4 linked regions of the Homo sapiens genome follow. The protein of the gene in region 1 interacts with the protein of each later gene in a biochemical or structural test. Each region holds a gene or a part of one and is shown on either strand. Other genes may lie near its edges.

Evidence for each region.
Region 2: the proteins of ESR1 (region 1) and HDAC4 form a complex in vitro, tested with the Homo sapiens proteins (2 studies listed by BioGRID).
Region 3: the proteins of ESR1 (region 1) and FLII form a complex in vitro, tested with the Homo sapiens proteins (2 studies listed by BioGRID).
Region 4: the proteins of ESR1 (region 1) and UBE3A form a complex in vitro, tested with the Homo sapiens proteins (2 studies listed by BioGRID, with this or other methods).

The regions. Positions count from the first base shown.
Region 1 is NC_000006.12:152,097,209-152,104,373, forward strand, and holds the end of ESR1 (estrogen receptor), read left to right. Parts: intron 1-1,523; coding exon 1,524-1,758; 3' UTR 1,759-6,066; downstream 6,067-7,165.
Region 2 is NC_000002.12:239,390,672-239,398,743, forward strand, and holds part of HDAC4 (histone deacetylase 4), read right to left. Parts: intron 1-8,072. UniProt on the Homo sapiens protein: Responsible for the deacetylation of lysine residues on the N-terminal part of the core histones (H2A, H2B, H3 and H4).
Region 3 is NC_000017.11:18,255,017-18,262,993, reverse strand, and holds the start of FLII (protein flightless-1 homolog), read left to right. Parts: upstream 1-4,255; 5' UTR 4,256-4,303; coding exon 4,304-4,366; exon of another isoform or gene 4,367-4,517; coding exon of another isoform or gene 4,518-4,547; intron 4,548-5,974; coding exon 5,975-6,085; intron 6,086-6,396; coding exon 6,397-6,468; intron 6,469-7,730; coding exon 7,731-7,811; intron 7,812-7,977. Other genes in the region: MIEF2 (mitochondrial dynamics protein MID49), read right to left, coding at 127-280, 1,833-1,858. UniProt on the Homo sapiens protein: Is a regulator of actin polymerization, required for proper myofibril organization and regulation of the length of sarcomeric thin filaments. It also plays a role in the assembly of cardiomyocyte cell adhesion complexes.
Region 4 is NC_000015.10:25,351,627-25,359,698, reverse strand, and holds part of UBE3A (ubiquitin-protein ligase E3A), read left to right. Parts: intron 1-2,802; coding exon 2,803-3,008; intron 3,009-3,642; coding exon 3,643-3,807; intron 3,808-5,015; coding exon 5,016-5,171; intron 5,172-5,272; coding exon 5,273-5,346; intron 5,347-8,072. UniProt on the Homo sapiens protein: E3 ubiquitin-protein ligase which accepts ubiquitin from an E2 ubiquitin-conjugating enzyme in the form of a thioester and transfers it to its substrates.

The sequences.
Region 1 (7,165 bases):
TATTTTGGTTCCTCACTAAGCCAATCTAAATCGCAGAAGTCTATTTTGTTAAGTAAGCTTGGCCCCAGCCATATGTTGCTACTCAGAGAATTTAATATCAGATTTCATCTGACTGTAAACGTGAATCATCAGGTTGCACAAGGAACACAGTGGCAGATCCAGGGGGCATTTAACTTTTATAGCATTTTAAATGAAAAAAAAAAAAAGTAACACTTAAACAAGTAATTTAGATCATGCTGTAGGCCCTGAATAGCTTTGATGTTGTGTTTTCATGGCAAGTCTCCAACTTGAGCTGAATTTTCCCCTACTAAAAATGCAAATTTTTCTAAGACCTTCTCTTGGTCCTGCTACTCATGATACATATTTCTTTTAAAAGAAATTTCAAACTAGATAATAGTTGTTCTCCTCCCCACCCCCGCCACCAGTAGTGTGGTGGGGCAGCAGAGTTGTGGCTAGTGGAGGAGAGCAGAGGAGGAGAGTAGGGAAAGGAGAATGCCATTTGCCTACATTTCCCTCTGCCCATTTCCCGCTGCCCATTTCCCCCCTTGTTTTCCTGAACGTGAACTGAGCTCTGGGCACTGTTTTAGGCCTAGCAGGGGACAGGATAAAGCCTGCTTCTCTAGGAATTCGCACTGAGGGTGTGAGTGTGTGCACGTGTGTGTTTGGAGGCGGGAGAATAAACACAAATAAATAAAAAGGAGAATTTCAGGCAGTGATAAGAGTGCTGAGAAAAACAGAACGGTGTGAAAGAGGAAGGCTGAGCCTGCAGAGGCTTGAGGCTGCTGCCACTGGGTAGCGGTAGGCCTTTCCGAGGAGGCGGCATTTGAAGACCGGAGGAAGGTTCATCCCAGCAAGTAGGAACAGCAAGTGTAGGTCCCCTAAGTCTTGGGGGAGCTTAGTTCCTTTAAGGGCAGCACAAAAATCAGTGTGGCTCCGGAGAGCACATTAGGGGAGAGAGGCAGGAAGAGCTTGGAGACATGGATGGAAGCTGGACCAGTTGGGCCTTGTTGAACATGGAAAGGCATTTAGATCGTATTCTGAGTTAAATGGGAAGTGACGTGAGAGATTTAACAATGGAGCGTCTTGAACTGCTTTACTCATTTAAAATACCCACTCCTGCTTGGCTGAATATCTCATGTTGTCTTTTTAGAAGCTTTGGCGATCCTATTTGAATGCATTTAGGTCCTATTGGAGGGGAATAGGATCTCATTTGAGGCCACGGAGGTCCATGGAAGTCACCTGCATAGCAAATACCCTGAAAGTGGCTGCAGGGAGAGTGTGAGGGTGGGACCGCCCTGGTAGGAGGTGGAAAATGAAAAACACACGGCCATGAGTTCCAGATTAGGGCTTCTGAAAGCCCTCAGCTTTCCCAGCTCCCATCCTAAAGTGGGTCTTTAAACAGGAAGAAAGAAAGATTGCTAAGTGTCTTTGGAGTTCCTCTTCCTTCCCCTTCTAGGGATTTCAGCACTCCTGGGGCTCGGGTTGGCTCTAAAGTAGTCCTTTCTGTGTCTTCCCACCTACAGTAACAAAGGCATGGAGCATCTGTACAGCATGAAGTGCAAGAACGTGGTGCCCCTCTATGACCTGCTGCTGGAGATGCTGGACGCCCACCGCCTACATGCGCCCACTAGCCGTGGAGGGGCATCCGTGGAGGAGACGGACCAAAGCCACTTGGCCACTGCGGGCTCTACTTCATCGCATTCCTTGCAAAAGTATTACATCACGGGGGAGGCAGAGGGTTTCCCTGCCACGGTCTGAGAGCTCCCTGGCTCCCACACGGTTCAGATAATCCCTGCTGCATTTTACCCTCATCATGCACCACTTTAGCCAAATTCTGTCTCCTGCATACACTCCGGCATGCATCCAACACCAATGGCTTTCTAGATGAGTGGCCATTCATTTGCTTGCTCAGTTCTTAGTGGCACATCTTCTGTCTTCTGTTGGGAACAGCCAAAGGGATTCCAAGGCTAAATCTTTGTAACAGCTCTCTTTCCCCCTTGCTATGTTACTAAGCGTGAGGATTCCCGTAGCTCTTCACAGCTGAACTCAGTCTATGGGTTGGGGCTCAGATAACTCTGTGCATTTAAGCTACTTGTAGAGACCCAGGCCTGGAGAGTAGACATTTTGCCTCTGATAAGCACTTTTTAAATGGCTCTAAGAATAAGCCACAGCAAAGAATTTAAAGTGGCTCCTTTAATTGGTGACTTGGAGAAAGCTAGGTCAAGGGTTTATTATAGCACCCTCTTGTATTCCTATGGCAATGCATCCTTTTATGAAAGTGGTACACCTTAAAGCTTTTATATGACTGTAGCAGAGTATCTGGTGATTGTCAATTCATTCCCCCTATAGGAATACAAGGGGCACACAGGGAAGGCAGATCCCCTAGTTGGCAAGACTATTTTAACTTGATACACTGCAGATTCAGATGTGCTGAAAGCTCTGCCTCTGGCTTTCCGGTCATGGGTTCCAGTTAATTCATGCCTCCCATGGACCTATGGAGAGCAGCAAGTTGATCTTAGTTAAGTCTCCCTATATGAGGGATAAGTTCCTGATTTTTGTTTTTATTTTTGTGTTACAAAAGAAAGCCCTCCCTCCCTGAACTTGCAGTAAGGTCAGCTTCAGGACCTGTTCCAGTGGGCACTGTACTTGGATCTTCCCGGCGTGTGTGTGCCTTACACAGGGGTGAACTGTTCACTGTGGTGATGCATGATGAGGGTAAATGGTAGTTGAAAGGAGCAGGGGCCCTGGTGTTGCATTTAGCCCTGGGGCATGGAGCTGAACAGTACTTGTGCAGGATTGTTGTGGCTACTAGAGAACAAGAGGGAAAGTAGGGCAGAAACTGGATACAGTTCTGAGGCACAGCCAGACTTGCTCAGGGTGGCCCTGCCACAGGCTGCAGCTACCTAGGAACATTCCTTGCAGACCCCGCATTGCCCTTTGGGGGTGCCCTGGGATCCCTGGGGTAGTCCAGCTCTTCTTCATTTCCCAGCGTGGCCCTGGTTGGAAGAAGCAGCTGTCACAGCTGCTGTAGACAGCTGTGTTCCTACAATTGGCCCAGCACCCTGGGGCACGGGAGAAGGGTGGGGACCGTTGCTGTCACTACTCAGGCTGACTGGGGCCTGGTCAGATTACGTATGCCCTTGGTGGTTTAGAGATAATCCAAAATCAGGGTTTGGTTTGGGGAAGAAAATCCTCCCCCTTCCTCCCCCGCCCCGTTCCCTACCGCCTCCACTCCTGCCAGCTCATTTCCTTCAATTTCCTTTGACCTATAGGCTAAAAAAGAAAGGCTCATTCCAGCCACAGGGCAGCCTTCCCTGGGCCTTTGCTTCTCTAGCACAATTATGGGTTACTTCCTTTTTCTTAACAAAAAAGAATGTTTGATTTCCTCTGGGTGACCTTATTGTCTGTAATTGAAACCCTATTGAGAGGTGATGTCTGTGTTAGCCAATGACCCAGGTGAGCTGCTCGGGCTTCTCTTGGTATGTCTTGTTTGGAAAAGTGGATTTCATTCATTTCTGATTGTCCAGTTAAGTGATCACCAAAGGACTGAGAATCTGGGAGGGCAAAAAAAAAAAAAAAGTTTTTATGTGCACTTAAATTTGGGGACAATTTTATGTATCTGTGTTAAGGATATGTTTAAGAACATAATTCTTTTGTTGCTGTTTGTTTAAGAAGCACCTTAGTTTGTTTAAGAAGCACCTTATATAGTATAATATATATTTTTTTGAAATTACATTGCTTGTTTATCAGACAATTGAATGTAGTAATTCTGTTCTGGATTTAATTTGACTGGGTTAACATGCAAAAACCAAGGAAAAATATTTAGTTTTTTTTTTTTTTTTTGTATACTTTTCAAGCTACCTTGTCATGTATACAGTCATTTATGCCTAAAGCCTGGTGATTATTCATTTAAATGAAGATCACATTTCATATCAACTTTTGTATCCACAGTAGACAAAATAGCACTAATCCAGATGCCTATTGTTGGATACTGAATGACAGACAATCTTATGTAGCAAAGATTATGCCTGAAAAGGAAAATTATTCAGGGCAGCTAATTTTGCTTTTACCAAAATATCAGTAGTAATATTTTTGGACAGTAGCTAATGGGTCAGTGGGTTCTTTTTAATGTTTATACTTAGATTTTCTTTTAAAAAAATTAAAATAAAACAAAAAAAAATTTCTAGGACTAGACGATGTAATACCAGCTAAAGCCAAACAATTATACAGTGGAAGGTTTTACATTATTCATCCAATGTGTTTCTATTCATGTTAAGATACTACTACATTTGAAGTGGGCAGAGAACATCAGATGATTGAAATGTTCGCCCAGGGGTCTCCAGCAACTTTGGAAATCTCTTTGTATTTTTACTTGAAGTGCCACTAATGGACAGCAGATATTTTCTGGCTGATGTTGGTATTGGGTGTAGGAACATGATTTAAAAAAAAACTCTTGCCTCTGCTTTCCCCCACTCTGAGGCAAGTTAAAATGTAAAAGATGTGATTTATCTGGGGGGCTCAGGTATGGTGGGGAAGTGGATTCAGGAATCTGGGGAATGGCAAATATATTAAGAAGAGTATTGAAAGTATTTGGAGGAAAATGGTTAATTCTGGGTGTGCACCAGGGTTCAGTAGAGTCCACTTCTGCCCTGGAGACCACAAATCAACTAGCTCCATTTACAGCCATTTCTAAAATGGCAGCTTCAGTTCTAGAGAAGAAAGAACAACATCAGCAGTAAAGTCCATGGAATAGCTAGTGGTCTGTGTTTCTTTTCGCCATTGCCTAGCTTGCCGTAATGATTCTATAATGCCATCATGCAGCAATTATGAGAGGCTAGGTCATCCAAAGAGAAGACCCTATCAATGTAGGTTGCAAAATCTAACCCCTAAGGAAGTGCAGTCTTTGATTTGATTTCCCTAGTAACCTTGCAGATATGTTTAACCAAGCCATAGCCCATGCCTTTTGAGGGCTGAACAAATAAGGGACTTACTGATAATTTACTTTTGATCACATTAAGGTGTTCTCACCTTGAAATCTTATACACTGAAATGGCCATTGATTTAGGCCACTGGCTTAGAGTACTCCTTCCCCTGCATGACACTGATTACAAATACTTTCCTATTCATACTTTCCAATTATGAGATGGACTGTGGGTACTGGGAGTGATCACTAACACCATAGTAATGTCTAATATTCACAGGCAGATCTGCTTGGGGAAGCTAGTTATGTGAAAGGCAAATAGAGTCATACAGTAGCTCAAAAGGCAACCATAATTCTCTTTGGTGCAGGTCTTGGGAGCGTGATCTAGATTACACTGCACCATTCCCAAGTTAATCCCCTGAAAACTTACTCTCAACTGGAGCAAATGAACTTTGGTCCCAAATATCCATCTTTTCAGTAGCGTTAATTATGCTCTGTTTCCAACTGCATTTCCTTTCCAATTGAATTAAAGTGTGGCCTCGTTTTTAGTCATTTAAAATTGTTTTCTAAGTAATTGCTGCCTCTATTATGGCACTTCAATTTTGCACTGTCTTTTGAGATTCAAGAAAAATTTCTATTCTTTTTTTTGCATCCAATTGTGCCTGAACTTTTAAAATATGTAAATGCTGCCATGTTCCAAACCCATCGTCAGTGTGTGTGTTTAGAGCTGTGCACCCTAGAAACAACATATTGTCCCATGAGCAGGTGCCTGAGACACAGACCCCTTTGCATTCACAGAGAGGTCATTGGTTATAGAGACTTGAATTAATAAGTGACATTATGCCAGTTTCTGTTCTCTCACAGGTGATAAACAATGCTTTTTGTGCACTACATACTCTTCAGTGTAGAGCTCTTGTTTTATGGGAAAAGGCTCAAATGCCAAATTGTGTTTGATGGATTAATATGCCCTTTTGCCGATGCATACTATTACTGATGTGACTCGGTTTTGTCGCAGCTTTGCTTTGTTTAATGAAACACACTTGTAAACCTCTTTTGCACTTTGAAAAAGAATCCAGCGGGATGCTCGAGCACCTGTAAACAATTTTCTCAACCTATTTGATGTTCAAATAAAGAATTAAACTAAAGACAACGAGTTTGTTTTTTGTAAGCTCCACTTCTTGCTAGCAGTTCACCACTGATCCTCTAAAATCAAAGTGGTTAAACGATCTGTCACACACAGTGAGTCTGAATGCTAAAGCCTCTCCTCACCTCACTCCCTCTGCCCAACACCCCCAGGTGTATCAGGAAGTGTGTGGACACTGTGGTCAGGCAGAACTGGCCTCAATTCTTGGCTTCACCACTTACAAATTTTATGATCATTGGCAGTTGATTTTTCAGAGTTTCGGCTTCCTTATCAACAATATGATGATAAGTAATAACACCTAATTCACACGATGGTGGTGAGGACTAACTGAGGTGCTCATTAAACATAGTTGCTGTTTTTTAATGCCTGGCCCAAATCCTTCCCTGTGAGGGAGAAGAAGGATGCTTGAGAGTGGTTATTTATGAATGAATGAGTGAATGGAAGAATGAGTGATCTGAAATGATATAATTAGCTTAAAAACCTCTCCCTCATTCTGAAGGTAAAGCAGGAACAATTGGTCCACCCCCACCCCAGGTTTCCATTTCAGGACTCCCTTCCCTTTTTGGAGCTACCTGCGTGCTTCCTTTACCCATTTTCTCAGATTTAACTGATGAATTGGGAGGGGGTGGGTATAGGACTTACTGAGATGCAACATAATATTCACACAGGCTCTGCAGCTAGATTACTGTTTGAATCTTCATTCTACCTTTTTTTTTTTTTTTTTTTTTGCATCACCTTGGGCAAGTTGAGTTCCCTGGGCCTCAGTTTCTTGACTTGTAAAGAGAGATGACAGTGCATCTGCCTGGAAGGGTTCTTTTATGAAGACCACATGGTTCGCTCATGGAGAGTATGGAAGGACCGTGGCTGACACTGCTTCTCCCTCTCCAGAGTCTTCCGAAACTGCACGTTGGACTCATTTCTTTATTAGGATGGGTTGAGGGTCTTCTCATTGTTTGAGTCACATGGATTTCAGGAAACTAATTCATTTTCTTGTCCAAGCATTCCCTTGGCAAGTTCTTCAATCCCTGTTTTCAATGGTTTCCTCATTTCTAAAATAGAAACAAGAATAGCACTTACCCTATAGCAGTACTGTGAAGATT
Region 2 (8,072 bases), on another chromosome or scaffold:
CTGACCTCTCCCATCTCCCTGTCCTTCACTGCCCTCCAGAGCGGCACTACCCCTCACTTTGCTACCAGGAGCCGCCACATGCCTGGAGCCCCGAGCCTGGACCTGAGCACCCAGCCACGCAGCCTCCCTTGAGACACTGCAGCCACACCCGGTAGCCCTCTGACCAAGGCAGTGGGCAAAATGCACACAGTCCTTCAGGGTCCCTGCTCATGCAAATCAGAAGCAGTGAAGACGGGACAGAAAGAACCAAGGGGAGGGAAAGCGGGGCAGCCTGGATTTACGCACAGCCACAGTCTCAGGGCAGCTCCCTCTCCCAGCACACTGGGAAGCATGACAGACGGCAAAGCCGTGGCACAGTGTCCATCAGACCGCTCGAGTCATCCTCAGGGCCAGGGGCCTCGGCTCGGCCTCGATACGAATCACACTGTGGCCAAGGCGCAATCTGGACATGCCATAGCAGCTGAGCCACCATCACGAGCCGGGCTCTGCATACCGGGTAGGGACGCTGGCCCTTCAGGTCCCTAACAAGCGCAGCATGCCCTGGGGGCTGACAGTGTCCGTGGGAAGCATCACGGTGCTTCTGAGCTTTCAAGAGTCTAATCTCTGTAAACTATGACACAGTCCCTGCAAGGACAAAGGCAGACGAGAGCTTGTTCTCAAACTGTACTAAGGTCCTTCGGGGAGACGTCCACCACACCACGACCTGCTGCAGAGACACCCTGAGCAGGTGCAGGAGCTTCAGAAAGTCCTGCAGGTGCATCCAAGGCCCGGTCAGCAGCAGGCCCCGGGCAGGGGACATACCCTACTCCTCATTCCTCCCAAGACCTGCCAGCAGAGAGGGCTGTGTGTCCTCAGAGCCAGCGGGGGAGGAGGAAGAGGAAAGCTGAGTCTCTGCGGGAGAGACACTCACTCAGCAGATGACAAAGGACTCACTGAGGTGATGGGGTCATGACAGTGAAGCTGGGATCTCAACCGATGCTCACTCAACACCCCAGAGCCATGGAACACAGGACATCACTGCAAATCACTCTTGTCCACTGCAGGCACATTGGCAGTGTGACGAGCAGGAGAGAGCACATCCACCAATCAGACCCTTCACCCCACACCCACGAGAGCACCGAGGAACCAGGAGAAGGATACGTGAAACAAGAGAAGAGGCCCTCCGCAGCTCCCACGTGCCTCAGCTCTGGCCTCCGCTTAACCAGAAGAATTCTGAAAACAGAACTTCGTCAGAACGCAGCCCGCGTGTGCTGAAGCTGGCACGCTGACATGGAAAGACACTCTTCTTCAGGGAGGGACCGCGGGAAGCACTGCACATGGTTGGTTGTGAACTCCGAAGCCCAAAAGGTCAACATCCCCACCAGCTTGGGAGGTGAGTTGGATGCTCCCACACCAGGCCCCATCCTGCCCGGGCCACCATGCCGGGCAGGGGTGGGATGGCCCAGCCCGGCTGCTACCCTCGGATGGCAGCGGGCATGCACGTAACGGCTCTGCAGGTCAGCTGCTGCCCCAGCCAGCAACCGAGCTACGCTGGGCTGTGCTGCACACTCAGGGGCAAAGGAAAGCAAGCTGCTTCAGGGCAGGCACTCGAAAGGCGAGAAGACACAGGCACCCCAGTGACATCTCCTTTGATGCATCCTTCTGACCTGGAGAGCCAAGGGGCGGATTCCAACACAGAGCCCTTGAGCTGGCAAACAAGTGTTCTCCAAAGAATGGGGACTGTGACCACCTATGAGGATTTTTTCAGTGCAAAATCTGATGTAAATTTTATAGTAGAGGGGGTTTTAATATGCCAGAACCTCCCAATGGTTTTCTTTATGGCTCACTTTAAAGGTCCAAAAGGTCAGAGGGCCACCCACATCCTGCAAGCAAGGAGGCACAGTTGGCATCACTAATTAAGATACACCCCGCTTGTGTGGACCCACAGGCCATCTTCCCCTCCTTGTCCACAGCCCCCAGAGGTGGAATGGGGGTCAGCCTCCTTAGAACACTCTAACCCCTGAGCTTACGGGGCTCGGACATGAGTCCTGGGGGTGGGTAAGTCCTCAATAGCCAGCTGGGATTAGCCCCAGGCCACAGGGAGGACTGAGGCTCAGGGGCCCTTGGCCACGCTCTGCTGACCTGCTGGGGGCCCACTTTCTGCCACTTGACTTACATGGCACGGTGCCAGCCAGCAAGGCCCCTGCAGATGGGCCAGGCTGGGCTCAGCCTCAGACCCGGAATTCTGGTGTGTAAACCGGTGGCACTGGGGGTGCCAGCTCGGGTCCCCCAGCGGGTCCCCTCCAGCACGGTTTCTACACAGACTCCTGGCAGGCTTCAGTCCTGACAGCTACTCTACAGAATCCTGGACCTAGGCACAGAGGAAGCTCTCGCCAGCACTGCTAGAAGGAAGGAACCCCCTCCCTTCTGGATGCGGCCCGTCTCAGAGCCACAGGACTGGGACCCCCGGCGTGTGAGCCACCTTCTTCACCTTGCCCTTGTTTTGGAAGCTGCCCTTGCTTTTCATGCAGAAGTCCCCACAACAGCACCACCAAGCATGTGCCCCAAGGAGGGCCTAGCCGCGCCATGGACCACCTGGAGGCCTCCTTGGGATGCATCTGAATGGGCCTGCCTCCACAAAGTTAGAACAAGAGAGATCAGGTCCATCACCCAGCTGGAGCCAGGCACCAGTGCACAAAATAGAAAGAACAGAAGCAAACTCTCCATTAAATGCAAGAAGACTACACATACATGAAAACGCAAGGAAGTCCTTTGTGCAGACCACACCTCCACCCCACCCAGGCAGCCTGCCAGTTGGCCCGGCTCATCACTGGCTCACGCACTCTGGCCTCAGAGACCTCAGTCACCAGGCCACCATCTGGCCACAATGCCCTTTTCACAATGCAGCCCCGAAACTCTGGCTCTGGCTAAAAAGGACCACACCCCATTCCCACCCACCCAGCCTCCCCTTCCTCCTCCTCATCTGGGCCTGGCTCCTGCACCACGGCTCTCCCTACCAAGCAAGCCCTCCAGCCACAGCCCTGGTTCTCAGGATGGTGACCCGTGTGCACCTGCCTGTTTAGCTCCTTTTTCTCCTCTGTCCCTACCAACACCAAAGCCTCTTGTGGGCAGAGGCCAGTTTTCCTGATCAAGCCTGGGGTCATGGGGCTGGCCACTGCGTCTGGCACAGAGAATGTGTTCAACTGAGTCTCATCTCATGTAAAACCTAGTACTTGGGCTGGGGTGTAAAATGAGTATTTGCAAAATAATAACTAATCAATTAGAAATATTCAGGGAACATGGCCCCCAAGGACCACCCCCCCTCCACCCCCAACCCCACCACCAGGGAGGCCAGTGGAGATACCACAGAAACTTCTCTTCCTCAGTTTAAAAAAGAACCGCTCCAGCAAATAGCAACACATAAACCAGATGATGGGCCATTCCCAAGGGAAAATGCAATTCCATCACCGCTTGAACAATACTCCCACTTGGAATGCTGGTTCAGACTTTCAGGTCCTAAGAACTGATTTATTGTTTCAAGCTTAAACATCAATCCAGCAAAAGCACTTGACTCACACAGACGGAGTACTTCATAAACAACAGTAAACTCACAAAGCCCAACACTCACATTTTTAAACAGAGCAGACTCCAAAATGTTTATGTACACAAACATATTAATGTATCATATTAAAATTATGACGCTAAATAAGAAGTGATTAAATAATGTCATTAATTCTAATTTAAAACAAGCAGAGAAAAACTTCTTCATAAAAGCACCACTCGCCTCCTCACACGCCGGGGCCCTGGGCGAAGCGGCTGGAGAACAAGCTGCACACACCTGCCTTGGCCTTGGCACAACAGTCGCATTTGCCACTCGACAGCTGTGTTGAAGGCCCTTCTCCCTCCCATTCCTTTCTGCATCACAGAATTCCCTCCACTTGCATTTATGACATCTCCTTAGGAGCATGTAATCTCCAAAATCAGGACCAAGAAGTTCCCAGATGGGGGCAGGGGGTGTCAGGAAACAGGCAATTCCAGAGCACTGGCAAGAACCCCGCAGAGGGGCCAGGCCAGAGGTGGGGCCTCACCCCAGCTCTCCCACCCAAGGCCCGCATTGTGCCATTCACTGGGCTACCTACTCATCCATTCATTCATTCACTCATTCATTTTCTTTCATTCTTCGAGCACCTACACTGCCAAGCACAGGGTACAGAGCAGGCATGAGGCCCTCAGGGCCCCTCAATCCTACAGAGCCCCAGCTAGTAGAAAAGGTGGCATTAAACAACTAAGGTCACAATGAGCTCCTTCCTGAAATTGCACAATGGGATGCTGTTAGAAAGGAGGAAAAAAGCTATTAGGCTAAGTTTAACAGGGGATCAAAGGATGAGAGGATGAGCATGAACTGAGGGGCTGGAGAAGAGGAAGGTAAAGGGAGGCCATTCCAAGGAAGGGGAACAGTGTGTGCAAAGGCCCCGAGGTCAAAGGGGACTTAGAGAGAGCTAGAAAGTAAAGCAGGTGGCAGCTGAAACTCCACAAACACAGCAAGTGCTATCAGATGAGGCTGGTAAAACAGAGGCCAGGATCAGGCAGGCCTTCCAGGGCCCTGAGACCTTAGGATCCTAAGAATACAGGAAAGTCATGCCAGGGTTTCAAGCAAGGGAATGAGAGGTACAAACCTGCTTCTGGTGGAAACCTGGGAGACTGTTTGTAGGATGGGCTGTAGCAGAGCCCGCTCAGACCCCGAGGGTCAGTCCCCACCTTGAAGAGCTTACATGTGAGTTAGAAAAACAAATGCCCCTAAATTCTTCTATTGCAAAGCATATTTATCAACTTGCCAAGGACTTAAAGAGTACTTTTCTTTCCAATGAAGATATCTAAATGTTTTCAAATTACTACTGTAAAAAAGTAATACACGCTTACCAAAAGAATCTCTACAATACCACCATGTATAAAAGAAAAGTGTACCCCGTCTCCTCACCTCTGATGGTTACCTTAGAGACCCATGTACTTAAAACCAGGAGTGGCCCGGGGACTGCTCCAGACCCCGCCTTTCCCTCTTACACTGCACACTTCTGCCTGTCTACACATGGAGGATGCCACAGTGCAGAAATGCCAGCAGGTTTAACAAGTACTCCTTTTATAAATAATGCAGCCCCGACCTCCACACACGTCTGGATATCTACACACTTATCTTCTTTCCTTAGAATAGATTTCAAAATGTAGAACTGTGGGGACAAGGAGAATGGCATTTAAGATTTTGACACTTAAGACTTTTCTAGAGAGCAATTCGGTAATCACTATTTTATGTTTATACATTACATATATAAACTTTTTTGGGGGGGACAGCCCAGGGTCTCGCTGTGTCACTCAGGCTGAAGTGCAGTGGCAAAATCACACCTCACTGCAACCTTGACTTTCCAGGCTCACGTGATTCTCCTGCCACAGCCTCCCAAGTAATGGGGACTACAGGCACACGACGTCATGCCTGATTTTTTTTTTTTTTTTGTAGAGATGAGGGTCTCACTATGTTGCCCAGGCTGGTCTTGAACTCCTGGGCTCAAGTGATCCTCTCACCTTGGCCTCCCAAAGTTCTGGGATTACAGGCATAAGGTACCTCGCCCAGCCCTATTATATTTTATATAATAATACATATGGGTCTCTCCAGAGAGCAAATGATAATAAATAACAGCCAACATTTATATCATGCTTACTACATGCCAGGCCCTATTCAAGGAAATTTCCATACATTAACTTAAACTTTGCAAAAACCTTACAAAATAGAAATTATTATTATGACCAGCAACAGGTATCATCAAACTCGCCAATATGATAGGCATAAAGGGAATCTCCTTCACACTGAATTGATTAGTAATGCTAACCTTTCATCACTGGCACAATGATTCAATGTTCATACGTTCTGCTCATCTTGCAATGGTGATCTCATGCTCTCCTTATTGGTCTGTAAAAGCTCTTTATATATTGACTGTTAAGCTTACACAGGCATAATGTGGTATGTATTTTCTCTCTCGTCTCTTAGCCCGGCTGACGGAGTCTTTTGCCAAAGAGATTTTTTAAAAAACTCTTATCCTATTAAATCTGTCAAGATTTTCTTTAAGGTTTCTGGGTTGGTATTGAAAGAGTAGATTAACTTGGTCCTCAAATGCTTTCTTCCAATAAAATCTTCCAAGGTAATCAACAGACCGAACAACAAACACTAAAAGCTGCTCCGGCTGAAGTGGACTTGGAGCATTAGCTCCCTTCCGTCACCCCCACCTGCCTCCAGGCGTCCTGGGGACTTTGCAGGAGAAGAACATGATGTCTTCTAGTTCTGCAGTCCCACACGTGACATAAGACAGCATGAGAAAGCCAGAAGTACTGCCCAGACCTATGAAACGCGCCTGTAACAGCGCCAAGAACAGTCAACACAGCACTAGAAAGTCTAACGACACTGAACTAGAAAGGTATTCCAAATCGTCCTCTTCTCTAAGAGGCTGTGTTCGCCCAAGCACCTCGACAAGCTGAACTTCAGCTTCAAGGTCACCACCAGCCTAGAAGCAGAGGCACGGAGAGGAACTGGCCTTTGGGACTGGAGATGCAGGGGGTGGCACATGGTCCATTTCATTCTACCCCCAGTTCCTCCAGAGGTAGAGCCCACCTGCAGGACTGTGCTGACACCTACATGGTGAGTGCATGAAACAGCACGAGCCCCAAGCAGGTGCTCATCTGGCGTCAGCTACGGGAGCACGTGACAGCTGCTCGTGGCATCATCTCCTTGCTCCAGGATACATCCTCATCCCCCGACAGTGATACAGGAAGTCACGGTGGGGGCAATCTATGCAGGACCCCGACCTTCCTTCCAGGAAGTGAGTAGGAGGTGTGTCAGCAAGGCCACAGCAAGGGGACATGTAGGACCCTGACCCTCCTTCTAGGAAGTGAGTAGGAGGTTTGTCAGTGAGGCTGCAGCAAGGGGACATGGCCATTTAATGCTGCAGGCACCATGGCCCTCATGCCACCCCAAAACAGGTCCCACTCTTCCCACGCACAGAAGCCCAAGAGAAGAAAACTGACCGTATGAAGAGAACTTACTGACCTTAGTGACACTTGTTCCCACAGAAACGCTTATGAATGAGTTAAGGTCTGTTCAAAGGTAGCATCACTTTTGACATGGCACCCCTCATCTGACCTGAACCAGAAGGTGCAGTACCCGCCTCTAACGTCAAGGCCAAAAACCCAGAGCCCACCACACGGCAGGGCATATGCTGACCACCTGAAATCAAAACAAACACTCCCTCCAAATCCATCCTTTCCGACTCCTTACCCCAGGACAGACTGGGGGCTGCCAACAACAGGGCAGGGGCTCAGTCTCGGTTCCACAGCCCCAAGCTTAGGTGGAGACTGGGCCCCTTCGCCCTTCAGTTCCCCCATCCCCAGCTAGTCATCAATTCTGAGCCTCGGAGGAAAGCCCGGCCACAGCCTGTCGCCCCGCTGCCTCTCAGCAACGGCAGTTCTCTCGGCCTCTGCGGCTCCTTCGCGCCCTACATCAGGTATTAATATATTACTCATGGCAGCTTCTGAGCTATGAAAGCCCAGCCGTTTTCAATAGAGAATGGTATGGATGAATTCTACAGGAGTGATGAAATGTTTCTTCTGCTCCGGCAATTAAGACAGCATAAAGTCGCCTTTCCTTTGGTGCCACCCCCAACATTAAAGGATTGGAATTCAAAGCCATTCATGCTGCATTGAAACCTCACAATGAAGCTGGAGAATGGAAGTCGATTACTGGGCATAAATATGCAGTAGTTAAAAGGAAAGAGTTATAACAAAATTAAACTGCAGCAACCCCACAATGTGTGGAAACTTCCAGCACTAGAGTCCTCCTGGTAAACATCCATAGGGCATTCTTCTCAACGAGGTCTCTGGCCACAGAGTCCAGATGGGCTGCCTGAGCCGCACGTGGCCAGCGTGCCAGGTTGTCCTGTCCATCTTGCTACAGCAACAGCCCCCAAGGCCTCCGAGAATATGGCATTTGGGGATTTTTATTTTGCATGGCTAGGAAGCTGCTGAACACAGAACATTCTCTCTGGTGCAGGGCT
Region 3 (7,977 bases), on another chromosome or scaffold:
GCAGGTGCCCTGGGCTCCCATGAAGGCCTTGGGCAGTCCCCACCCCTCCCCAGGGCCCCTCTGAAAAGCCCAACCCTGTTGTCCTCCTCTAGGAGCTTCAGGCATGACCCGCCCACTTGGCCTTACCCGCTTCACGGCCAGGGTGGCAATGCCCAGCACAGCAGCCCCGCCCACGCCCAGCACCAGGCGGGCATTGGCCAGGAGGAAGTCCACCATGCTGCCCAGCCCTTCGTCGCTACGCCGCTTCCCCCGTTTCTGGGAGAACTCTGCCATGGTCTGCCTGTAAGAGAGCCAGGGGTGAAGGGGCAGCTCAGGTGCAGGTGGCCAGGCTGGGAGAGGGGCTGCTGTGGACAGGTGCTCTAGCTGTCCTTATGCTGGGTAACAGAGCTGAGCCCATGAGGGGGGCTTTCTGAGAATTTCTCAGAGAAAGGGGCCACCCATCCACAGGGGAGGACACCGAGGCCCTGGGAAATCACGTAAAGTACCTGAGAAAGGGCAGGGATGGGATATGAGCTTGGGTTTTGGGGTCCCAAGCCCCCATCTCTCATGAGGAGATGAGGGAGCTGCCAAGCCCCTTCTCCCAAAGCTGCCTGGAAAGAAGCTCACAAAGGCCCTGAGGCTTGTGCAGGTATAGGAAGGGGCCTCTCTCCCTGGAGCCCACCCTCCAGGACCTCTGACATCACCAGGGTGTCATCATCACTACCCCTATGTTACAGAGCTACAGGCTGCCAGCTCACAAGTGAGTGGTAAGGTCTCCAACCCATGACTGCAAGGCCTCCAGACTCTCATCCGCCCACAGAGTCTGACGGATTCTCCCTGTGCCAGGTGCCCAGGTCCTCAGCAGCAGCCTCATCTGAAGGTTCCTACCCAGAGGGCACAGCAGCCCTCTATGATAACCTCTTCAGAAGAGCCCAAAGTCCAGAGAAGACCAACAATTTGGGGCCCCAGCCAGTCTGGGGGACCACTGGGACCAGTTACCCCCAAATCTTGACAGGGTAGCCCAAGAGGCAGAGCTACCAAGTCAGAGCACGGGCAGAGTAAGACGGCCCAAGCTGCCCAGGCAGGCCAATGCAGATGTGCTTGTCAGGGTTGAAGCCCCTTTGGCAGGGCAGAAAGGGCTGCCCAGTGCCTCTGTACAGGGGGCTCTCTGGGCCTCTCAGTCTTGGGACAATGTGTAGGTAGTGGTGGGTGATGCTTCTCAACTGCCGGAAGGCCAAGCAACACAGAAAGTAAGGTGAAGGCCTGGGCCCCAGCCTGTTTGCTCACCTGTAAGATGGCATAGGCAGCAGTGAGGGGCAGATGTGGGCAGCCTTGAAGTGTGTGGCTGGGTGGGGGCCAGCACTTGGGAAGTGGAGGCAAAGATCTCCTAGGGCCCAGTCCACATTCCTCACGTTCTGCGAGGGGGACACTGCCCTCAGGCCCTGGGAGCTGAGAAGGGCTGGGACCTTAGGACATCAGTTAGACACCAAGCAGAACTCTCCCGGGGAGGCCTGAGCAGATGACCATGAGGTCACAGCCTGCCCGGGCACCAAGGACTTCTACCTGCCCTGCCAGAGTGTGGGTGCCAGGGGCCCAGTTGCCAGGTGACCAGATGCCTGGAGTAGCTGAAGCCTGAAGCGCTGTGTGACTCAGCCCCGTACACCCGCCCATTCGCCCCAGACTAAAAATAAGACGGTCTCTGGGGCGATCCCAGGCCAACCGGGTGACCCGCCACGGCCCCAGGGCCGGTTTCAATCTCCTCATCGGTGACTCGGGGATCAATACTGCCACCCGCCCCCAGAGAGACCAGGAATCTACTTTGCAAACTGTAAAGCGCTTTAAATACTCCCAACCTGTCTAAATTGGGACTCAGCCCCATCTCTGGCGGGGTCGCGCAGGCCTCAGTCCACAGCCTTCCAGCTCCGAGAAGCAGGAAAGGGCACGGGTGGCTGAAAATAACCCAAGTTTGCGCAGCGGGGCCCTGGAGGCCGTTTGGCCTTCCCTCCTCCGCCAAACCTGCCTGCCCTGGGCCCGGGCGGAGCAGGCCGCGCAGCAGCCCTAGGTGGGCGGGTGACGCCCCGTTCGCAGGATAAACCAAGAGACCGAGAGGGGAAGGGGGCTGGGCTAGGATTCGAACGCTGCCCTTGGTCCCCCAAAGGTCCCCTCCCCGCCTTCCCCAGCGGTGATCGCGGGCCACGCCCCCGATCTGCGTTCCGTCGCGCGCCAAGCCCCGAGCCCGGTGACCCTGGGGGCCGCCCCGCCGCGCTCCAGCTGTACCTGCGTCGCAGCTTCCGCACGACGACCGGAGGAGGCAGCGGGACCACGGCCCCGGAGCTCAGACCAGCCTGGGAATGGAACGTGAAGGACCCTGGAACCCAACGACTAGGGCCCCGGGGGCAGCCGCGGACTTCGCAGCACGCAGACAAGCAGGCCCTAACTCCAATCGGAGCGCTCGAGTCCAGCGCACAGGTGCCAAAATACTGCGCGGTTCAGCCAATGAAGGGCAGGTCCCGCCCCCCAGCCGACAGCCGCACTCCCTCTGGGGCGGGACTCCCTGACGCAGTCTGGATTTAAAGGTGCAGGGCTGCATTCCGAGACCGCGAACAGGTGACGTGACAGGCGACCCTCCAGGACGTCTGTGCGTTGTAATGTGAGCCTCCGGTGTGGAGGAAGCTGTCTGGGCCCCGTTCCTTCTGGGGACCAGGTAGAGAGGCTGCACATGGCTAGAGGCCCGGCACATCCAACCTCTTAGGTCACCTCTGCGAGAGAGTGTCTTGGTGGCCTCATTCTTACCTGTGGGCCTGAGGGGCACAGCGCCTACCCCTGCCACCTGCTCTGTGCGAGCTTGTGTGGGCCATTCTCCACCTGGGCATCAGTTTTTCTCCTGTAAAATGGGGACACTAGACCCCCTCCTCCCCTGCGAAGGATGGTTGGGCATATAACAGCTGTGGCTCATTTATTGGGGTCCTGCTATGTGTCAGCCAGGGCGAGCCCCCTTGAACAGCAAGGACCAAGACGGATGCTTCTCTTCTGGAGCCTCCCTTTGTAGGGGGGTACGAGCACAGGGGTGCTGACACTAAGTGGGAATAATAACCTGGCGCACAAAACAAAACAAAACGGAATAATAACCTGCCACTCACTGAGCGCCTGCTGTATGCTGCGAGCTACACGTGCATTCTTTGTTAATTTGCTCATGGTGACAACCTTAGAAAGTATTTTACAAATGAGGAAACTGGGTAGGGCGCGGTGGCTCACGCCTGTCATCCCAACACTCTGAGAAGCTGATACCAGAGGATCACTTGAGGCCAGGAGATCAAGACCAGCCTGGGCAACATAGCAAGCACCCCGTGTCTACAAAAAGTATAAATAAGGCCGGGCGCGGTGGCTCACGCCTGTAATCCCAGCACTTTGGGAGGCCGAGGCGGTTGGATCACGAGGTCAGAAGATCGAGACCATCCTGGCTAACACGGTGAAACCCCGTCTCTACTAAAAATACAAAAAAAAAAAAAAAAAAAATTAGCCGGGCGTAGTGGCGGGTGCCTGTAGTCCCAGCTACCCGGGAGGCTGAGGCAGGAGAATGGCGTGAACCCGGGAGGCGGAGGTTGCAGTGAGCCGAGACTGCGCCACTGCACTCCAGCCTGGGCGACAGAGCGAGACTCTGTCTCAAAAAAAATAAAAAATAAATAAAATAAATAAATTTAGCCAGGTGTGGTGGCCTGCGCCTATAATCCCAGGTAGTCGGGAGGCTGAGCCCAGGAGTTCGAGGCTGCAGTGAGCTATGATCACACCACTGCACTCCAGCCTGGGCAGCAGAGCAAGAAGACCCTGTCTCAACAAAACAAAAACAACACATGAGGAAACTAAGTCCAGAAGCAGGAGAGCTAGGACCCGAGGATCCAGGTGTCTCACTACCACCGGTCAGCCAAGTACAGGCACTTCCTGGGCCTCTGCGCCCCGGGGCCGAGGTTTAGAATCTCTCTGAGGTCAGGGCCAGCTTCATGTGCTGCAGCAGCGCAGGTGACGGTGCCTCGACCAGCGGCCGTTACGGCCCCTGCCCTGGGGCGCTGGGACTTAAGCCTGGAGATCGTGGAAGCCTCCAACTCCAGCACAGGGGGGGCCCGCACTCCTTGGTGCCTCCGCAGTCTTCGAACAGACGGGGAAACTGAGGCCCTAAGAGGCCTAAAGCCTACACTTCCCCGCGGAATGCGGCGGGCGCGGGCGGGTTAAAGGGGCGGGGCCGGCGCTGGCCCAGCCCGCGGCTCCCCCCAGCGCCCTCGCCCCGGCGCTCCCTAGCCCGGCGCGGCCCGGCAGCGAGAGCGGCGCCATGGAGGCCACCGGGGTGCTGCCGTTCGTGCGTGGCGTGGACCTCAGCGGCAACGACTTCAAGGTGAGCCGGGCCGGGCGCGTGCCGGGCCTCCCTGCAGGCCTTCTCTTCCGCCCGGCCCGCTTGGCCTCCGCTTCCTGTCCCGCTCGGCTCCAGGCCCTGCGTGTCCCAGGGACTGCGGCCGGGGCGGGGTGGGGCTCTCCCCTGGCCAGGAATGGACCTCCGAGGCCTCCGCCCAGTGCCTGTACGGGGAGACCGAGGCTGGGCAGGCCGGGGACGGACGCTTGGGCTCGGAGTCCCGCCGGGGGCCCGGCCGGGAGCCCCCACCCCGCGTCCGTGTTCTCGGTCTAGGCTGGATGGTGGCCTGGGGATCGGGCGAGCCTCCCCGCCCCTCTGAGGTCACACGCCCAAGCCAGGCCCTGACTCAGGGATGGCTGCCCGGCTGCCCAGGGGCGGGTGTGGAGCCGACTCATCACTGCCCTCTCCCCGCCACCGCCACCCGCCATACTGTGTGATCCTGGGCCTCTCAGATCACTTCCCCTCTCAGAGCCTAGGCTTTCTCAGCCGGTGAAGGGGCTTAAAAGTCTCCTCCTTGGACGCAAGGAGTATAGTGAGATTTGTTGGTGTGGAGAGTGTGTCAGGCCGGTGTGCCAGGTGCTGGGTGGCAGTTGTCTGAGCAGCTGCTGGACTGAGAGAAAAGGGACCGGAGCCCAGCCCTCCGCAGCCAGTGGGTGGGGCGGCGGGGTGGTTCCAGGACTCAAGAATGAGACAGGCATTGCCTGACCAAAGGGGAAGCAGAGAAAGAGAGGGAGGGAGAGCTGGCTGGAGGGTCAGCCTCACCTTCAGGGTGGGTGACTGGCAGGGTCGGCCTGGGTTGTTGGTCTGGGGCTGGGGCCGAGGAGGCAGGTTTTTCCTGCGTTTACCTGCCTGTGTACACACCTTTGACCCCAAGTACAAGTGGCTACACCACTTTTCCCTGACCCCATCCCCACCACCCTAACCTGGGGTCCCCGTTCCTCTTTGCTGAACTGGGAGAGTCCGAGTCACCAGCTGGGAATGTGGCGCTAGGGGGAAAGGAATATCAGCCGCAGGCACTGAAGGCACCTACTGCCCCAGACTTGGTGCCACAAGGGCTGGAGGTGCCGAGGTGGGCGTTCACACACCAGGGGAGTGCAGTGATGCTGGCCTGCCCTGCAGGGTGGGGAGCCACGGTCTCCGCAAGCAAGGGTTTGACCCTGGCCGTGAGTTGCCAGTGTGCTGATGGCAGGATGAGGGCACAGGTGGCGCCTTTGCAAAGGCTTGGAAGGGGGATCCCCCACCCCAGGCAGCCAGTCAGAGTGTGGAATGCTAGGTGAAGGAATTTGAGCCGAGCTAACCACAGAGCCGGATGCTGGGCTTTCACCTGAAACAAGCCAGTTTTGTCCTGGCCCTCCTGGGGCCCAGAATCCAGTAGGAGAGACAAATCTTAGGCCAACACTTTTGTCACGGGGGGGCTTAAAATTCCCATTCTATGGGTGAAGAAATTGAGGCACAATGATGAAATGACTTGTCTGTGTTCTCACAGATGGTGAGAGTTGGTTCTGTGGCTCCCCAAAGGCTCCCATGGGCTGGAGGAGCCATAGAAGGTGGTGAGCAGGGGCTCTGTGCTTCACCTTGACATCCTTCCCCCAGGGCGGCTACTTCCCTGAGAATGTCAAGGCCATGACCAGCCTGCGGTGGCTGAAGCTGAACCGCACTGGCCTCTGCTACCTGCCCGAGGAGCTGGCCGCCCTGCAGAAGCTGGTAAGGGGGTTTGGGCGGGCAGGGGAGGGTCCCTGTGGATGAGCCAGGTGGGCAGAGCCTGTGGAGAAGGCAGACAACTTCTCCAGAGAGAGGAACACCGACAGCTATGAGCAGAGCTGGAAGAAAGGGAGTGGGCACCCTGTCCAGGGAGGTGTGCAAGAAGAGGCCGGGTGAGTGAGGGAGGGAAGCTGCAGGGGTAGTTGGGCCAGTGTGGCTGAGGCCTTCCTGGATGGTGCAGAGTTGTGGAGGCAGGCAGGGACTCTGGACACCCCACCCACCCTGCTGAGCCTGTGCTCCCCATTCCGGCCCAGGAACACTTGTCTGTGAGCCACAACAACCTGACCACGCTTCATGGGGAGCTGTCCAGCCTGCCATCGCTGCGCGTGAGTGCTGGCCGGGAGGCCACCGAGCTTGGGGTTGGGGCCAAGGTCCGGTCAGGGACGTGAAGCCTGGGCTAGACACCAAGCTGGGCCAGCATTTCTGCCCACCTCCGTGTCAGGCTCAGAGGCTCAGGTGTCACAGAGGGGCCCTCTCATTAGAGGTTACAGCAGTGCCCTGTGTAAAGTAACCCATGTGGATCAGAGAATTCCATCAGGAAAAAGGTAAAGAAATCCAAAATCTTACCAGCCGTTATGGACAATAACTACAGTAATAATAGCCAAGACTGGCTGAGCAATGTTCCCACTATTCTGTTAGGATTTTTTCATATGCTCTAGCCCTCCACTAATGTTGCAGAAGAGAAACTTGGCCACCAAGGCAGATTACTTGCCCCAGGTCACAGAGCCAGGCAGTGGTAGAGCTGGTGTTGAGTGGGGTTTGGCCGGGAGCACCGTGTACCTTCTACCCAAGACTTGAACGTCCCAGAACATCAGGCCCTTGGCCAGACCCTGTAGGCCTCAACGAGGGCCATCCCATCTGAAGTCAGAGCCCTGGAGATGTTTAGGGCACAGCTTCTGACTTGGACTCTCTGAGTTCAAAGCTGGGCTTTGCCACTTCCTGGTGATGTGACTTTGTACAAATCGCTTCTACCTTCTGGGCCTCCTCTGCAAGTGCAGTGGTTGGGAGGGGCAGCAGTGACCCCGTGAAGCAGCAGCAGGGTGCCGCACAGGCATTCAGACTGGAGAAGTGGCGGGGCAGCTCCGGTGACTCCCGTTGTCACTTGGAGTCACGACACCATTCTCTGGCCCTGTTCCCTCATGCTCAAGCTTTCTGCATGTCTGTAAGGTATGAGGAGGTGTCAGTCTTAAGTTAGGGAGAGAAAGCAGACTTCCTCTCCATCCAGATTCTGATTTCTCTGTGGTCCACTTCTCTCCCTCTGTTCTGAAAACCCTGACTCAGACCTTACCCCTATCTCACCTTCTGGAATTAAGAAGAAGAGAAATGGTTTGAACAGAAAAGGTTCCCTGAGGGCCCTGTGCTGGGGCTCCGGGGCACATTTGAGCTGGGCTTTGAGGCATGAATAGGAGCTCACTGGGAGGCTAGGAAGAGCGCTCCAGGAGAGGGAGCTATTTGATCAAAGGCCAGAGGTGAGAGAGTCCTCAGGCCTGGCCTCTGGTGAGCTGCCTGAGGAGGTGTCCCTCTCTAGACTCTGTTCCTTCCTGAGAGTGGAAGCCAGGAATTATAGACTCTTATGGTTTATTCCCAGGCCATCGTGGCCCGAGCCAACAGTCTGAAGAATTCCGGAGTCCCCGATGACATCTTCAAGCTAGATGATCTCTCAGTCCTGGTCAGTGGCTACCCACTCACCTGGCCCCTGTGCTAGCCGGACCATTCAATCCCCACTCACTATAAAAGTCCCTGGGGCCATTGTTATCCCATTTTGCAGATGGGAAAACTGAGTCTTGGAGTGGATAATACCTTGCCTGAGGTCACTTTTGGAGTCAGATCCCTAA
Region 4 (8,072 bases), on another chromosome or scaffold:
ATAATTCTGAACTGGTTCAGTTTCTACTGTAAATATAACCACTTAGTAACTGAGCTTGCTTACGTTTAAAATTGAGTACATGACAATTACAGGAAAAGGTTTCCACTGAAGGTACCATCAGAATTGTGAGGAGTGTGCATAGAATAATGTATGTCATTTCCCTTCAGCTTTGAGATTTGAGCTGTTATAGCCTGTTGATTCTAATTGAGTTGACCTTTCTGTTACTGTTCTTAGTCACACACACACACACACACACACACACACACACACACACACACACGCATCCCTTATCTATAATCTAGCTAGTGTTTTATTAATAACTAAAAAGCTATGCCATTTGTATGTAGTTTGTTCTAAGTAAATCAGAGATACATAAGACGACGCCCTTTTTGAGATAGAAAATTATAAACTTCATAAAGTTCTTAAATTTGGTAAACCTTAGCTCTAGCTTTTGATGTATCTAGAAATGTTAAACCTTAGCTATAAAGCATACTTGCATTATATGCAGAAATACTTGTAAGAAAAAACATAGATTAAGCAGTTCCAGTAAGATAACTGAAGTGATGGCAGTAGAAGTATCAAAAAGGAGTATTTTACCAGGAGGTTATGGTGCTTTTCTCCCTGGAACATGAGAAAATGTGCCTAAAATGGAACTTCAGAGTTATATTCTGATTAACTTATAGCTTGTTGCTCTTGGTTCCAAGGAAGGGCATTTGTGACATTTTATTAAATTCATTAATTTTTTAGACACACCATTGTCAGCTTGAACAAATTTATTAATTGTAATTATTTGTCAGCTGTTCTTGATCCTGTTAATACCATACTTATAACTAAAAGCATTTCCATGGATGTTGTAACTTGGCCTGTAAAAAAAATGTTTAGATAGAAACCATGAAACTCAAATATGAATTGTTTAATTTTCAAACCATTTTGCATTCAGAAAATGTCCTAAGCTTAATTCATACTCCTAGTGATCAAGGAAACATGTTAAAGCTCCTTATTTTTAAACTTAAAGTGACAATGACATTTTCAAAGATTTTAAAATTCTTATAAACAGGTTAAAATACTTATATACTGTATAATTTGATTTCTGATTTCTAAGCTCTACTTTTCTATTGGAAATTACAGATTTTTTTCAGACTTAATTCTTAAGATGTTTTCATTGTTTCACAGTAGCAACTAAACATGTAGTAAAATGATTTAAATTCAATTAAAATTTTTTTCCTTAGTCATTTAAAAGGGAAGAAATCAATTTTTAGTAGTACTCATTCCAAAGATTCCAATTTTCCTTTTTTTTAATCTTTTATTTTTTGGTGGAGGGAGGCAGGATCTGGCTCTGAGGCCCAGGCTGGAGTGTAGTGGTTCTGTCTCGGCTCACTGCAACCTCCACCTCCCAGGCTGAAGACTCAAACCATCCCCATGCATCACCCTCTCAAGTAGCTGAGACTATAGGCACATGCTACCACACCCAGCTTATTTTTTGTGTTTTTGTAGAGATGGGGTTTCTCCATCTTGCCCAGGCTGGTCTTGAACTCCTGAGCTCAAGTGATCTGCCTGCCTCAGCCTCCCCAAAGTGCTGGGATTACAGGTGTGAACTACCACACCGGGCCCCAATTTTCCAATGAGTGATATAAAAAAGGCCTCCACGCAGGCGCCTGTAGTCCCAACTACTCCGGAGGCTGAGGCCAGAGAATGGCATGAACCCGGGAGGCGGAGCTTGCACTAAGCTGAGTGCTGCTGCACTCCAGCTTGGGCGACAGAGCGAGACCGTCTCAAAAAAAAAAAAAAAAAAAAAAGCCTCCATGATTGGGGCTTGCATAGTGAAGACCATGTGAAATTGAAAGACTACGAAACTACTTTTCTTTTACGTATTGGCCCATAATTAACATGTGTATTGAATAGCTTTGTTTATCTAAGTTCATCAGATTTATCCAGGTTTATGTATTTCAGATCATCTGATTTTATTAGGAAAATGCTAGAAAAATTTCATGGCACCATTGTCTAATTTTGAAAAAACGAACCTTTCTTTACTGTGATTAAAAATTGTTTTTTAGGCCAGGTGTGGTGGCTCACGCCTGTAATCCCAGCACTTTGGGAGGCTGAGGCTGGCAGATCACGAGGTCAAGAGGTTGAGACCATCCTGGCAAACATGGTGAAACCCCTTCTCTACTAAAAATACAAAAATTAGCTGGCGTGGTGGTGCACACCTGTAGTCCTAGCTACTCAGGAGGCTGAGGCAGGAGAATTGTTTGAACCTAGGAGGCAGAGGTTGCAGTGAGCTGAGATCGTGCCACTCCAGCCCACCCTGGGTAACAGAGCGAGACTCCATCTCAAGGAAAAAAATGAAAAATTGTTTTCAAAAATAGTACGTGTGGTACAGATATAAGTAATTATATTTTTATAAATGAAACACTTTGGAAATGTAGCCATTTTTTGTTTTTTTATGTTTATTTTTCAGCTATGGGTGGATAAAGCATGAATATAACTTTTCTTATGTGTTAGTAGAAAATTAGAAAGCTTGAATTTAATTAACGTATTTTTCTACCCGATGCCACCAAATTACTTACTACTTTATTCCTTTGGCTTCATAAAATTACATATCACCATTCACCCCAATTTATAGCAGATATATGTGGACATTGTTTTCTCAAGTGCTAATATAATAGAAATCAATGTTGCATGCCTAATTACATATATTTTAAATGTTTTATATGCATAATTATTTTAAGTTTATATTTGTATTATTCATCAGTCCTTAATAAAATACAAAAGTAATGTATTTTTAAAAATCATTTCTTATAGGTATGTTCACATACGATGAATCTACAAAATTGTTTTGGTTTAATCCATCTTCTTTTGAAACTGAGGGTCAGTTTACTCTGATTGGCATAGTACTGGGTCTGGCTATTTACAATAACTGTATACTGGATGTACATTTTCCCATGGTTGTCTACAGGAAGCTAATGGGGAAAAAAGGAACTTTTCGTGACTTGGGAGACTCTCACCCAGTAAGTTCTTTGTCATTTTTTTAATTCAGTCTCTTAGATTTTATTTAAATGCAAAAATTTAATTTATGTCAAAATTTTAAAGTTTTTGTTTAGAATCTTTGTTGATACTCTTATCAATAAGATAAAAATGTTTTAATCTGACCGAAGTACCAGAAACACTTAAAAACTCAAAGGGGGACATTTTTATATATTGCTGTCAGCACGAAGCTTTTGTAAGATTGATTTCATAGAGAAGTGTTTCTAAACATTTTGTTTGTGTTTTAGTGAAATCTTAAGAGATAGGTAAAAATCAGAGTAGCCCTGGCTAAGGGTCTTGGTAGTTACAACGAGTGTGCCTGCTCCTACCACCCCCACCCCCACCTTGAGACACCACAGAATTTCTCATAGAGCACAGTGTGAATTCTATTGCTAAATTGGTGGTATGGGGTTTCTCAGCAGAGAATGGGACATCACAGTGACTGACAATCTTTCTTTTATAGGTTGGAAACTATTTGGGGGACTGGAGGGATACTGTCTACACTTTTTACAATTTTTATTGATAAGATTTTTGTTGTCTTCTAAGAAGAGTGATATAAATTATTTGTTGTATTTTGTAGTTCTATGGTGGCCTCAATTTACCATTTCTGGTTGCTAGGTTCTATATCAGAGTTTAAAAGATTTATTGGAGTATGAAGGGAATGTGGAAGATGACATGATGATCACTTTCCAGATATCACAGACAGATCTTTTTGGTAACCCAATGATGTATGATCTAAAGGAAAATGGTGATAAAATTCCAATTACAAATGAAAACAGGAAGGTAATAAATGTTTTTATGTCACATTTTGTCTCTTCATTAACACTTTCAAAGCATGTATGCTTATAATTTTTAAAGAAGTATCTAATATAGTCTGTACAAAAAAAAAACAAGTAACTAAGTTTATGTAAATGCTAGAGTCCACTTTTCTAAATCTTGGATATAAGTTGGTATGAAAGCACACAGTTGGGCACTAAAGCCCCTTTTAGAGAAAGAGGACATGAAGCAGGAGATAGTTAATAGCTAAGTGTGGTTGTAGTATAAAGCAAGAAGCAGGGTGTTTCTTGTATTAAGCTGTAAGCAGGAACCTCATGATTAAGGTCTTTATCACAGAACAAATAAAAATTACATTTAATTTACACATGTATATCCTGTTTGTGATAAAAATACATTTCTGAAAAGTATACTTTACGTCAGATTTGGGTTTCTATTGACTAAAATGTGTTCATCGGGAATGGGAATAACCCAGAACATAACAAGCAAAAAATTATGACAAATATATAGTATACCTTTAAGAAACATGTTTATATTGATATAATTTTTTGATTAAATATTATACACACTAAGGGTACAAAGCACATTTTCCTTTTATGATTTGATACAGTAGTTTATGTGTCAGTCAGTACTTCCACATTTTTGCTGAACTGGATACAGTAGGCAGCTTACCAAATATTCTATGGTAGAAAACTTGGGACTTCCTGGTTTGCTTAAATCAAATATATTGTACTCTCTTAAAACGGTTGGCATTTATAAATAGATGGATACATGGTTTAAATGTGTCTGTTTACATACCTAGTTGAGAGAACCTAAAGAATTTTCTGCGTCTCCAGCATTTATATTCAGTTCTGTTTAATACATTATCGAAATTGACATTTATAAGTATGACAGTTTTGTGTATATGGCCTTTTCATAGCTTAATATTGGCTGTAACAGAGAATTGTGAAATTGTAAGAAGTAGTTTTCTTTGTAGGTGTAAAATTGAATTTTTAAGAATATTCTTGACAGTTTTATGTATATGGCCTTTTCATAGCTTAATATTGGCTATAACAGAGAATTGTGAAATTGTTAAGAAGTAGGTGTAAAATTGAATTTTTAAGAATATTCTTGAATGTTTTTTTCTTGGAAAAATTAAAAAGCTATGCAGCCCAATAACTTGTGTTTTGTTTGCATAGCATATTATAAGAAGTTCTTGTGATTAATGTTTTCTACAGGAATTTGTCAATCTTTATTCTGACTACATTCTCAATAAATCAGTAGAAAAACAGTTCAAGGCTTTTCGGAGAGGTTTTCATATGGTGACCAATGAATCTCCCTTAAAGTACTTATTCAGACCAGAAGAAATTGAATTGCTTATATGTGGAAGCCGGGTAAGAAAGCAGGTGTCTGCAAAAAGTCATGTATCGATTTATTGTTTGTAATGATACAGTAGTATAGCAGATAACTAAGACATATTTTCTTGAATTTGCAGAATCTAGATTTCCAAGCACTAGAAGAAACTACAGAATATGACGGTGGCTATACCAGGGACTCTGTTCTGATTAGGTGAGGTACTTAGTTCTTCAGAGGAAGATTTGATTCACCAAAGGGGTGTGTGATTTTGCTTCAGACCTTTATCTCTAGGTACTAATTCCCAAATAAGCAAACTCACAAATTGTCATCTATATACTTAGATTTGTATTTGTAATATAATCACCATTTTTCAGAGCTAATCTTGTGATTTATTTCATGAATGAAGTGTTGTTATATATAAGTCTCATGTAATCTCCTGCATTTGGCGTATGGATTATCTAGTATTCCTCACTGGTTAGAGTATGCTTACTGCTGGTTAGAAGATAATTAAAATAAGGCTACCATGTCTGCAATTTTTCCTTTCTTTTGAACTCTGCATTTGTGAACTGTTACATGGCTTCCCAGGATCAAGCACTTTTTGAGTGAAATGGTAGTCTTTTATTTAATTCTTAAGATAATATGTCCAGATACATACTAGTATTTCCATTTTACACCCTAAAAAACTAAGCCCTGAATTCTCACAGAAAGATGTAGAGGTTCCCAGTTCTATCTGCTTTTAAGCAAATGCCCTTACTACTCTACTGTCTACTTCTGTGTACTACATCATCCAATTCTGAAAGACATAGGCTTCCCCATCCCCTGCTAAGACTGGTTCAAGTGGCAGCTACTGATGGATTGCAGTGAGAAGGCATGCAAACACGTACCTTCCTGGAAGTTGTCTCCAAAGGCTATTGCTCTAAGACTCAAGTATATAAACACTAGAATGAATATCAACTCTATCTAGCAATAAATGTTATTTTTATATTACAGTTGACCCTTGAACAACACAGCTGTGAACTTCATGGGCCCTCTGACATGCAGATTTTTTTTCTCAACTAAGAGCAGATTCAGTATTGGTGGGACTCAGAACCTGCATATACAGAGGGCTGACTTTCATACATGCCAGTTTCACAGGGCCAACTGCAGAACTTGAGCGTGCATGGATTTTGGTATACACACGTGGTCCTGGAACCAATCCCTGTCACATATACCAAGGGATGGCTGTATGTTACTTTATATTCATTTGTTCTGTTATTTTATAAGGTTGTTCGTCGTGGTATGTGGGAATTCACCAGTATTTCTTCTTTCTGGTGCACCGTTGGTCATTTCTGGCAGCAGTGGTGAATGTATTTACTCTTAGCAACCTCTGTGCTGCTACCTGTTCTGAGTTTCAAAGGTGATTCATTAAAGGGTTGGGATAACATGGTGATAGGAAAAACCCCCCTCATCAGTCACAAGGAGTATAACAGCAATATCTCTGTAATATGATTGATCATAGATATAATTTCTAGTAGGAAAAAAAGTCATATCTTGATGCATCTCTGAGAATAGTTGAACATATCTTGTGCTATTCTTTATAGAGAAATTATCTTTGAAATTAAAGTCTTAATTTTACTTCTAGCTTTTTATAACAACATAATCCCTACTTGGTATGTATCTTAAGATCATTTTTAAATGTATGATTTGAAGGGCAAACTAGTGTTATGTGAAAAATGACAGATAAAGTAGCTTCCAACTCATCCTCAAGAGTTGATGATATTCTAAACCTTTTCTAACTAAATTCAGCTTCTTAATTTTCTCAATATAAATATGATGAAAATATTAATTCATTAAATAGTCTACAAGTATTCGGTAGTTGAAGACTTAAAGTAGTGCTTGTAATAACAGAAGAGAAAAAAGACATTACAGGCGTATCTCACTTTATTGCACTTTGCAGATACTGAGTTTTTTTGGTGGCAACCCTGCATCAAGCAGGTCTACCAGCACCATTTTTCCAACAAAATGTGCTCACTTCATTAGCATTTTTAGCAATGATTTTAAATTAAGATAATGTACTTATTTTTAGACAATGCTGTTACACACTTGACTACAGTATAATGTAAACGTAACTTTTATAAGCACTGGGAAACAAAAAAATTTGTGTGACTCACTTTACTGCCATAATCACTTTATTTGCCATGGTCTGAAACTGAACCGGCAGTATCTCTGGGGTATGCCTGTATAGATATTTTGGTTGGTATTTATTTATTGTATGCAGAATTCATAAAAATAAAAACTGCGAGGCTGTTTAATACATTTCAACTAAAAGTTGCCAGCATCATTAATATGTAAACCACTAGAAATAAGATTTTGTTAATTTTTTGTTTGTTTGTTTAAACAGTCTTGCTCTGTCACTGAGGCTGGAGTGCAGTGGCGCAGTCTCAGTTCACTGCAACCTCCGCTTCCTGGGTTCAAGTGATTCTCCTGCCTCAGCCTCCTGAGTAGCTGGGGTTACAGGTGCACACCACTACACCTGGCTAATGTTTGTATTTTTAGTAGAGATAAGGGTTTTGCCATGTTGGCCAGGCTGGTCTCAAACTCCTGACCTCTGGTGATCCGCCCGCCTCGGCCTCCCAAAGTGCTGGGATTACAGGCGTGAGCCACCATACCTAGCAAAATCAACTCTGAATCTGAATCAAACCTTTGAAACAAAAATTACCAATCAAAAAAACGTGCAATCCCTGCTCCTAACTTTGAAAAAGTGACAAGGAAGGACATTTGGAAAGATGTCTCTAAGCAGTCAACAAGAAATGAAATCAGGGAGAGCTTTTTCAGCACCTGAAAAAATACATGCAAAAACGCCCGAGGCGGGCAGATCACCGGAAGCCAGGAGTTTGAGACCAGCCTGGCAAACATGGGGGAAACCCCGTCTCTACTAAAAATACAAAAATTAGCTGGGT